Homo sapiens: one gene and its partners. The protein of the gene in region 1 purifies or fractionates together with the protein of each later gene. This does not show direct contact. Each region holds a gene or a part of one and is shown in the gene's direction. Other genes may lie near its edges.

Evidence for each region.
Region 2: the proteins of MYPN (region 1) and HOMER1 purify together in Homo sapiens (affinity purification with mass spectrometry; one large-scale study listed by BioGRID and IntAct). This does not show direct contact.
Region 3: the proteins of MYPN (region 1) and ITPRID2 purify together in Homo sapiens (affinity purification with mass spectrometry; one large-scale study listed by BioGRID and IntAct). This does not show direct contact.

The regions. Positions count from the first base shown.
Region 1 is NC_000010.11:68,115,988-68,119,487, forward strand, and holds part of MYPN (myopalladin), read left to right. Parts: intron 1-3,500. UniProt on the Homo sapiens protein: Component of the sarcomere that tethers together nebulin (skeletal muscle) and nebulette (cardiac muscle) to alpha-actinin, at the Z lines.
Region 2 is NC_000005.10:79,402,433-79,406,171, reverse strand, and holds part of HOMER1 (homer protein homolog 1), read left to right. Parts: intron 1-3,739. UniProt on the Homo sapiens protein: Postsynaptic density scaffolding protein. Binds and cross-links cytoplasmic regions of GRM1, GRM5, ITPR1, DNM3, RYR1, RYR2, SHANK1 and SHANK3.
Region 3 is NC_000002.12:181,919,202-181,922,940, forward strand, and holds part of ITPRID2 (protein ITPRID2), read left to right. Parts: intron 1-94; coding exon 95-245; intron 246-1,395; coding exon 1,396-1,461; intron 1,462-2,746; coding exon 2,747-3,211; intron 3,212-3,739.

The DNA.
Region 1 (3,500 bases):
TTCCTCCTCCATTATTCTCAATCCCCCTTTTCTATTTTATTTTTCTTCCCAACATTAATATTTTCCCTACTAGAATGTCAGTTCCATTAGGATAGAGACTTTGTCTTTTGTTCACCACTGAATCCACAGTGCCTAGAACAGTGCCTGGCACATAGTAGATGCTCAATAAATATTTATTGGATGAATAAATGAATTATAGGGTACCTATAAGAGCACTTATGATTTTTTTTAAGTACAAATTTTATAATAGTTATAAAATTAATGCTTAAAATAGAAAGTTTTTAAATTAATGCTTAAAAAAATAATTTTCATATTTTTTATTTTGGCTAATATTTTATCAGTTTAACAATTTATATATGCATTTTCATCTGAGAATCCTCAAAGATAGAATTGTTGTCCTATTTGACAGATGAGGTTAACTGAGATTCAGATGCATTAAGTGACTTTCTCAAGAAAACAAAGTTATTTAGTGTTGGAGCTGGGATTCAAACCCAGGTTTCTGATTATAATCAGATGTTCTCTGATACTTCTGGTATGAAAGTAAAGCATTCCAGCCTGGTCAACATGGTGAAAACCCATCTCTACTGAAAATACAAAAATTAGCCGGGCATGGTGGCAGGTGCCTATAATCCCAGCCACTTGGGAGGCTGAGGCAGGAGAATCGCTTGAACACGGGAGACAGAGGCTGCAGTGAGCTGAGATCGTGCCATTGCACTTCAGTCTGGGCTATAAGAGCGAGAGTCTATCTCAAAAAAAAAGAAAGAAAAGAAAGAAAAAAGAAAACAAAGCATGATTTCAGTTATTTTATCCATCATAAATAAATTTTCACTTGAAAGTCATCTTAAAGTTATGACTGCCTTTACCAGTTTATAGTTTTTCTTTGTGTCTATAAGTTTTCTTTGACCTCCTTTATCTGTCCTATTTTATCCTACAATCAAAAGTGAAAGATAGGCCGGACATGGTGGCTCATACCTGTAATCCCAACACTTTGGGAGGCCGAGGCAGGTGGATCACTCGAGGTCAGGAGTTCAAGACCATCCAGACTGATCAACATGGTGAAACCCTGTCTCTACTAAAAATACAAAAATTAGCCAGGCATGGTGGCACATGCCTGTAATCCCAGCTACTTGGGAGGCTGAGGCAGGAGAATCGCTTGAACGTGAGAGGTGGAGGTTGCAGTGAGCCGACATCGCACCATTGCACTCCAGCCTGGGCAACAAGAGCGAAACTCTGTCTTAAAAAAAAAAAAAAAGTGAAAGCTAATAGTAGAGTTAGCAGAAAATTCTAATGAACACATAAATTCAAAAAAAAAAATTTATTGACCACCTTCTATGTGCTATGTGGGTGCAGAGACGATGGTGTACAAAACATAGTGAAGGAGACAGAGAAGAAAATACACTTCATATATTGTGATAAGTACTGTGTTTGGAGACTGTGTCAAGGACAGTGAGCTTTGGGAGCACATTGGAGAGGTACCCAACTCAGGGAAGAGAAGAAATCCCAGGGCAGTGATGTCTCAGCTAGGAACCAAAGACCATGTAGGATTAGGCCTGATAGGATAGTGAAAAGAGGTGGGCACAGGAAGCAGTCCAAGCAAAGAGAATACAAAGATCTGAAGTCAACACAGTTAATTCATGAGACTGTATTTCAATAGAATACAGATACACTGAATTAACTATGAATGTAGACTTTGGTTTTTCTTCAAATTTTTCCTCGGATCAAGCCACTTCACTAGTTCTGCCTCCATTTCTTATCTATAAAATGGAGGCCATGATACATGGCCATAGCTGTTAAATAATAATAATAATTATTATTATTATAGTAATAGTAACTTCCATTTATTGAATGTTTACTAAATCCCAAGCACATTTAATCATCACTTCTACCTATGATATGGCTACTACTATTATATCTGTTTTACAGATGAGTAAACTGAGGCATATAGAGTTTAAACTTTCCCAAGTTTATACGAGGATATTAGGAAGTGTCAGAACTAGGATTTGAACCCAGTTCTATCTAATGCCAAAGTACTAGGTCATAAGTACTACATTAAAACATTAAAGAAATCTTTATTTTGAATACCTGAAAGTTTTGTTGTAATAATTTATCATAACCATAAACATAAGAACAGGTACATTAACACCTCAATTGGCTTCTTTTCTTAAAAAAAAACTTATCTAAGAATTTTATTTTCTATTTCCACCACAAATATAAACTTTTTTAAAGTTCTTCAACTTTAACATCACCTTCACCAAAGCATTGTTTTTTACAAACATCAGTTGAATACCCATTATAGTGGCAAGCCCTATTTTAAGGACTTTGCCTTTGATGTTATTAATCCTTACTCCCCTGGGAAATAGATTTTTTCATGTTTTACAGATGAAGAAACCAAAGCTCAAATAAGTTAACTTCTCAGAGTTACATAATTGTTACGAGATGAAGCAGAATTTGGAATTAGATCTATCTGGTACCAAGGCCAATGCTCATTCCATGTTGCCTCAGTATAAAAGCTATCTCAAAATAAAGAGTAAAAGACAAAGTCACATTAAAACACAATATACAGGCTAGGCACGATGCCTCATGCCTGTAATCCCAGAGCTTTGGGAGATGGAGGTGGGAGGATCACTTGAGGTTCTTTGAGTTGGAGACCAGCCTGGGCAACATAGAGAGACCTCGTTCCTACAGAAAATTTAAATATTAGCCAGGTGTGGTGGTGCGTGGCTGTAGTCCCAGCTACTTGGGAGGTTGAGGAGGGAGAATTGCTTGAATCCAGGAGTTTAAGGCTACAGTGAGCTATGATCATGCCACTGTGCTCCATCCTGGGTGAGGGAGTGAGACCCTGTCAAGAAAGAAAGAGAGAAAGAGAGAGAGAGGGAGGGAAAAGAGTGATGAAGGAAGGAAGGAAGGAAGGAAGGAAGGAAGGAAGGAAGGAAGGAAGGAAATTTAAAAAACCACAATAAACAGTAATGTCCAATGAATAGAGAGAAAGCCATCCTGATTTATAAGGCACTTAATTTCCCCCCCATCTAAACAGAAACAGAAAATTAAACGAGGCTAAAGAAATAGTTGAGTTACAAATGAGGATTTTCGGTATATTAATTACATTTTCAAATAACATTTTGCACCTTATTTCATATATCTTTAACTGTTACTACATGTAGTTGGTGCACAAATGAGAAAGATTTTCAATTGGGGTATCAATTATACTTTCATATACTATTTTGTGTATTATTCACTGTTCCATGAAATTTAATAAATAGCCATATAGTTCTATTTAATGAGTAATAATTTAATTAACTAATTTCTTATTACTGAACATGGTTACAATTTTTAAATATTATCATGTGATAAACACCTTTGTAGACAAATCTTTGCCCTCCAACACCTTTGCATTTTATTTTATTTATTTATTTATTTATTTATTTATTTATTTATTTATTGAGACAGAGTTTTGCTCTTGTTGCCCAGGCTGGAGTGCAATGGTGCAATCTTGGCTCACA
Region 2 (3,739 bases), on another chromosome or scaffold:
AAACATATATTTCAACAGTCAAGCGTTTTAAAATAATTGATGTGGTGTTATAACTACCTAGACTACTCATATAAAAAGTACTTCTGCCAATCGGTATTAACTTGTAAATTACGCCAAAACAAGGCAACTAGTTCAGGAATACCAACCTTTTCTTAAACAGGTTTGTTGTAGATTCTCCATGTTCCAGGTCTACAGTGTTTTATAGATGAAATCCCTGTTACCGTATATGCATGCCTGATAAGTTTAAAATGGGAGTCAAGAAACTCCATATGATTCTACTACCCAAAACTAGTGTGAAATTCCATCCCTGATGTGAGAGCTAAAATATTTATATTTGAGGTTTTTATTAGTGTTGAAAGTTTTATTAAAATTAGTGTTATAAAATTTACTACTCATTAATTGATTTGATCTGAGGTTAGCCTTGCACTTATTTCATAGTGAATACCTTTACTTTTCATTTAGTGCATTGACTAAGCTTGCACAGATTGGCAAGCACCAGGTTTTGCTGGTAAGTGAAAGGATGGGTGTAATAACTGGAAAATACTTGTTGGAGAAAACTTGAATCAATGAAAGGAAAAAATGCAATCTGATAGATTCTGAATATAGAAAAAATTGGACAAAAATTCATAGAAAAAAATGAGAATCTGATTGAGAAGAAGAGCTCATCACAGAAAAGCCAGCTTGATTAGAACAGGAAATATAATCCATGTACTTCAATTCAGGAAGATGGGGCAAATTGATAGGTTACATAATGTGGGTTTAAAAAATTATGTTTATTAGTTTGCTTGAGTTGTCCTAAAAAATGCTGTAGACTGCATGGCTTAAACTATAGAAATCTATTTTCTCATAGTTCTGGAGGCTAGAAGTCTGAGATCAAGGCGTCTGCAGGGTCATTTCTTCCGAGGCCTCTCTCCTCGTCTTGTAGATGGCTGTCGTCTCTTTTTATGTTCGTGTGTCTGTGTCCTAATCCCCTCCTCTTGTAAGGACACCATTTATACTGGATTATGGCCCACCCTAATGACCACATTAAACCTTAATTACCTCTTTAAAGACTCTGTCTCCAAATACAGTCATACTGTGAGATCCTGGGAGTTAGAACTTCAATATATGAGTTTTGGAGGGACACAGTTCAGCCTCACGCACAGAATCGAAGAGGCAATCAGGACCGGGCACGATGGCTCATGCCTGTAATCCCAGCACTTTGGAAGGCCGAGGCGGGTGGATCACCTGAGGTCAGGAGTTAGCGACCAGCCTGGCCAACATGGTGAAACCCTATCTCTACTAAAAATATTAAAAAAAAAAAAAAATAGCTGGGCGTGGTGGTGGGCACCTCCCAGCTACTTGGGAGGCTGAGGCAGGAGAATCGCTTGAACCTGGAAGGCGGAGGTTGCATGAGCTGAGATTGTGCCATTGCACTCCAGCCTGGGCAACAAGAGCGAAACTCCATCTCAAAGAAAGAAAGAAAGAAAGAAAAGGCAGAATGTCAAGATCCTCTTGAACAGTACTGTTCAGTAGAACTTTTTGTCATGATGAAATGTTCTGTTATCTTTGCTGTCCAGGGTAGTAGCCACCAGTCATGTGTGGCTGTTGAGTGCATGAAATGTGTCTCAAATTCAAAGCTGAATTTTTTACTTTAATTTTGAAGTATTACATTTAAATAGCCACATGCTAATATTTGGATAATACAGATCTTGACTGATCTATTTATTTGACATATAAAGAACTGAGAACCAAAGTGCTTGAGTGTTGGGTCCGAGGTTACCCAGATAATTACTGAATACTTGTGATGTAAGCAGTTATAAAATGCTTGATGGATTTTACTGTCTAGTGACTATAAAATAAAACCCACATAAATATAATAGAAAAACACCCTCATTTTAAAATTATTTCTCCTGCTATAAATATGTGGTAATCCATTTTACTTTATAATTGTGTGATTTTGACAAATGGATTTTAGGAGTAAATAATTGTTGTTTCTTCCAGTTAATTTTTAAAGGTGTTTGCTATTGACATGTAACAAGTGTTTAAATTAGTTCACTAAGATGTCAATCGTCAGATTGAAGTTTCCATTTAAATAAAACGCATCTCTATAGGGGAAAAACTGGTAGGTGGTTTAAAGAAAAATCTATAATTCAGTTAGAGCAGGTGAATCCATGCATGCTTTTTTCAGAAGACATGAATCTGAAAAATCATTTCACAAAGGAAGAATAAGAAAAGAGCTTTCCTTTTCAGGATAGAAATGGATTGTTAAGTTAATAGCTTAGCTTGTTGCTTGATTCTATCCTTTCATGTTTTGATGATATTTTCTCACTTAGTAAACTTTAGGAATATTTTTAACTTTTCATTTTAAACTAATTTTAGACTTATAGAAAAATCACAAAAACTGTACAGAGTGCCCGTATACACTTCACACAGCTTCCCTTAATGTTAACATCTTGTGTAACCATAATACAATGATCAAATCCAGGGCAGTAGCATTGATACAATACTACTAACTAACCCTCAGTTTTCACCAATGTTCCCTTTCTGTTCTAGGAACCTACCTAAGATCCCACCTTGCATTTAACTGTTATTTCCTGTTTCCTTCATTTTCTTCACATGTTTGAAGAGTTTCAGTTATTTTACAGATTGTCCCTCAGTTTGGGTTTATATGATATTTTCTCATTGTTTGACTGAAGTTACGCATTTATTGCAAGAATACTACAGACACAATCTTGTGTCATTCTCTGTACATCATATCAGGGGGTTCGTGATGCTAATATGTCATATTTCTGGTGATAAACTTTAGAAATCTTGGTGATGAAAACTATGCTTTTTAAATAAAATATATGCTAAAATTACTATAAAATATCAACCCATCAAATTTACCCTAGAATACAAATGATTTATCAAACCCCCAAAAAATGGTGATTGAAGAAAGCTATAAGCCTCACTAGTTAGTTAATGGGATGAGGTTAGTAGAATTTAACTAATAGAAATAAACTTCAATAATGAGAAAGAGAAACAACCTTTTTCTTTCTAATGAGGCAATTCTTCATTGGAAAGTTAGGAAAGGAATTTTCAAGAGGAGTCTTTCCAACTAAAAGAATTGTCTTGTAGTAGAAAATTGTTTTAGTTGAGGTACTTAACTGTAGTAACTTATCAAGTAGAATATTAAATGAGGAAAAACGGTGATTGCTTTAGTCTTCTTCTATTTATGACACTGGAATTATATCAGAAGTCAAGTCTTTAGAACCAGTTTGTAGGCCTAGCCTTTCCTATGAAATCAGTTTATTGTAGCAAATGTTTGTATTTTTGACATTTTAAGGTCCTGAATAAGATGAAATAAATCAAAAACAATTTCAAAAGAAATACTACATTACATATCCCAAACCTTATGACATTTAAGCATCCTCATATGTTTTCATTAAGGAATAACATTGTACTTTAGGGTTTGACACACGTAAAAAATGTAATACATTGTTAGGTTTTTTTAATAGATGTTTTTCAGGCTATAATGTTTATTCCTTAAAAGAGAATGGGTGGAAACTCTTCTGTAGATAACTGTATCTGTCATAATGAAGGTTGGAAACATTCCACGTTAAGCCTGGTACTTGAGTACTTTTTATATTTCTTCACTTGCCAGGTTTTCTTTACTAGGAATATTTTGGTAAAGTATTTGTGTTTTTTAGTATTTTGAGGTTGTCTTTGAAAACATTCTTAGGGCTGGTCACAGTGGCTCACGCCTGTAATCCCAGTA
Region 3 (3,739 bases), on another chromosome or scaffold:
CCTTCTGTTAGCATATAGTAGTTGTTGAAAGATTTGTGATTAGGAATCTCCAAACTGCATTTTTCCAATTTTGTGCCCTTCACCATACCAATAGGTTTGAAGTTGATCAGCTCCAGGGTTTGAGAAATTCAGTCCGAATGGAACTTCAGGACCTGGAACTGCAGCTGGAGGAGCGCCTGCTGGGCCTGGAGGAGCAGCTTCGTGCTGTGCGCATGCCTTCACCCTTCCGCTCCTCCGCACTCATGGTACGCTACCTGGAGGGTGGTCGGAGTTTTCACCAAAGGTTTATTTATAATGTTCCAATAATTTAGGACGTGTGCCTTCATTTCAAGTCATTTATTTTAATGGTATTAAAAGCATGCATACTGTTTAAGGAGCTTTCCCACAAATCAGTTGAATGTACAATTTGTAATAATTGTCATAAATAGTATATTTAGAAATATGTTGAAAATTTTTAATGATAAATTTTAATAACAGGAAAGAATAAGGGCTTATACGAAAGTTGAGGGTTTTTAAAGGAAAAATGCTAGTGAATTAACATATGACTAATGTAAATTTTAATTGTTGCATGTAACTGCAGAGAACACAGATGCATATTTTGCTGTTTTTTTTTCTTTCATGCCTTTAAATAAAAAAGTGTTCCTTTTAAACTTTTTCTTTATTTTGGATTCTTTTCCATTTGTTTTTAAAGGAATCAAATGATACCTGTATATTTTCATACATATATATACATACACATACATATATGTATTTTCCTAAATATATAGATATATATCCAAGAGAATAAAAAGAAACATGTTTTTGTACCACTTTTCATACTTCTAATGTTTCTTTCCATAACATTTGAACTTCAACAGTTGTATTATTTTTGCAAATATCTTTGAAGTTGTAGAATATGTTGCTTTGAAATGCTGAAATAGTGAATTATTCTTTGTTACCTTAACAATGTATTTGATTTTGTTAAAAAGAAATGGATGAATATACACACATACAATTATGTGTGTATATACTATAAATGAAGTAGAATAAACAATGGTGTATAAACACATATATGTATAGCATAGACTAAGGATGTTCTGTATTGCTAATGAATGTACTTTTCAACATGGTTTTGATTTATCATTCTGAGAAGTGTATGTTGGTGACGGGAGAACTAGAACATCCTTTTTGCATATTGTATCAGTTTTAACTCACAATAATGCATTTTATGGGATCTGTGACACTTGAGAGTAACCTTTGTGACATAAAGGGATGCTTCCAGGCACTAATTAGCCAATTAATTTTATTATAAAAGTCTTGTGATTTGAAAAAATATATATGTACATTATAATTATATATGCATGTATGTATATATACACACACATATACATATATATATTGTTCTTACCTTTTCAGGGAATGTGTGGCAGTAGAAGCGCTGATAACTTGTCATGCCCTTCTCCATTGAATGTAATGGAACCAGTAAGCTTCTTTCCTCTTAAATCACTGGGGAAGGGAATGATACAACATTTCAGACACATAGTTTCCCTAGTTTAGATGAAATATATGTTTATTTTAAATACATAATTTGATAAATTATTGTTGATTGGAAGTGACTTTCACCTTTGAAAGTCCATTGCTGTCTGAAGCCACTAGAAAGCCACCTGAATTGCAATAGTGATTTATCTTTCTGACTAAAGGAGGTAATGCACCATAAAAACATGTACAGTGGCTCATGCCTGTAATCCCAGCACTTTATTTAAATGGTTGAGGTGGAAGGATTGCTTCAAGCCAGGAGTTTGAGACCAGCCTAGTCAACAAAATGAGACCCTTTCTCTACAGAAAATTTAAAAATCAGCCAGGCATGGTGATATGTGCCTGTAGTCCCAGTTACTCAGGAGGCTGAGGCGGGAGGATTGCTTGAGGCCAGGAGCTCAAGGCTACAGTGAGCTATGATTGTGCCACTGCACTCCAGCCTGGGTGACAGAGCAAGACCCTGTCTTTAAAAAATAATAAGCCAGGTGTGGTGGCTCATGCCTGTAATCCCAGCATTTTGGGAGGCTGAGGCAAGTGGATCACCTGAGGTCAGGAGTTGAAGACCAGCCTGACCAACATGGTGAAACCGCATCTCTACTAAAAATACAAAAATTAGCTGGGCATGGTGGCAGGCATCTGTAATCCCAGCTACTTGGGAGGCTGAGGCAGGAGACTTGCTTGAACCCGGGAGGCGGAGGTTGCAGTGAGCCGAGATCAAGCCATTGCACTCCAGCCTGGGTGACAGAGTGAGACTCCATCTCAAAAAAAAAAAGAAAATTGATTTTTAATTTACATTTCAGGAGACATGTGCTTTCACAGTTTGATCCTGGTTCTTTAGGTAGTTAGAGCTGTAACATGACCACGTTTTTAACAGAAATCTGTCTTTATTGTGTTAGACAGATTGGTTCATTTGGGGGCAAAAGCACTATGAGTAACTATTTTTCACTAGTTACTCTTCCTTACAAGTGATTTGGACACTTTGGTGGTAACAAGTAAAATTTCATCCTACTATGTATTCTGTTTACCTGTTTTGTTGCTTCATCTCAATAGGAATTTAAATTTTACTTACCATTTTTGCAAATAAAATTGAGTAGTTATTAAATTAATGGAATAGATTTATGTCTTTACAAATTACATGATTTTAGGCAATAATGACAACCAGGACTTTAACCTTTTTAGCTACCAATCTTAATTCCAAGAGAGAAGAATAACATTTTTTTATGATCTCCAGGTCACTGAACTGATGCAGGAGCAGTCATACCTGAAGTCTGAATTGGGCCTGGGACTTGGAGAAATGGGATTTGAAATTCCTCCTGGAGAAAGCTCAGAATCTGTTTTTTCCCAAGCAACATCAGAATCATCTTCTGTATGTTCTGGTCCCTCTCATGCTAACAGAAGAACTGGAGTACCTTCTACTGCCTCAGTGGGCAAATCCAAAACCCCATTAGTGGCAAGGAAGAAAGTGTTCCGAGCATCGGTGGCTCTAACGCCAACAGCTCCTTCTAGAACAGGCTCTGTGCAGACACCTCCAGATTTGGAAAGTTCTGAGGAAGTTGATGCAGCTGAAGGAGCCCCAGAAGTTGTAGGACCTAAATCTGAAGTGGAAGAAGGGCATGGAAAACTCCCATCAATGCCAGCTGCTGAGGAAATGCATAAAAATGTGGAGCAAGATGAGTTGCAGCAAGTCATACGGGAGGTGGGTAAAATCTGTGTTTCATTCATTTATTTGGAGGTATATGTTAGAGGAGATTTTGTCTGAATATTAATTATTTACAGAATGTTCTTTTGATTCACTGTATTCAATAATTTTCACAGAGCTTTTAAATTAGCTTTCCTGTTGATCAAGTTTGTGTCAATTAAGATATATTTGTAATGGCATTTCTGCAAATTTCATACTCTAATGTGAAATAATTACAATTCTCTGTGTTCAGTATGGTGAAAAAGATATGTGAAGGACTCAAAATAAACATGACGTACTCTTTGGACCTCTTGTTTCCACATCTACAAAATGAGGATTTACAGTTTAGATCTCTTCGAGGATTAAAAACTGCATTTTATAGCTGGACGTGGTGGCATGTGCCTGTAGTCCCAGCTACTCGGGAGGCTGGGGTAGGAGAATTGCTTGAACCTGGGAGGCGGAGGTTGCAGTGAGCCAAGATCATGCCATTGCACTCCAGCCTGGGCAGCAGAGCAAGACTCCATCTCAAAAAAAAAAGAAACTGCA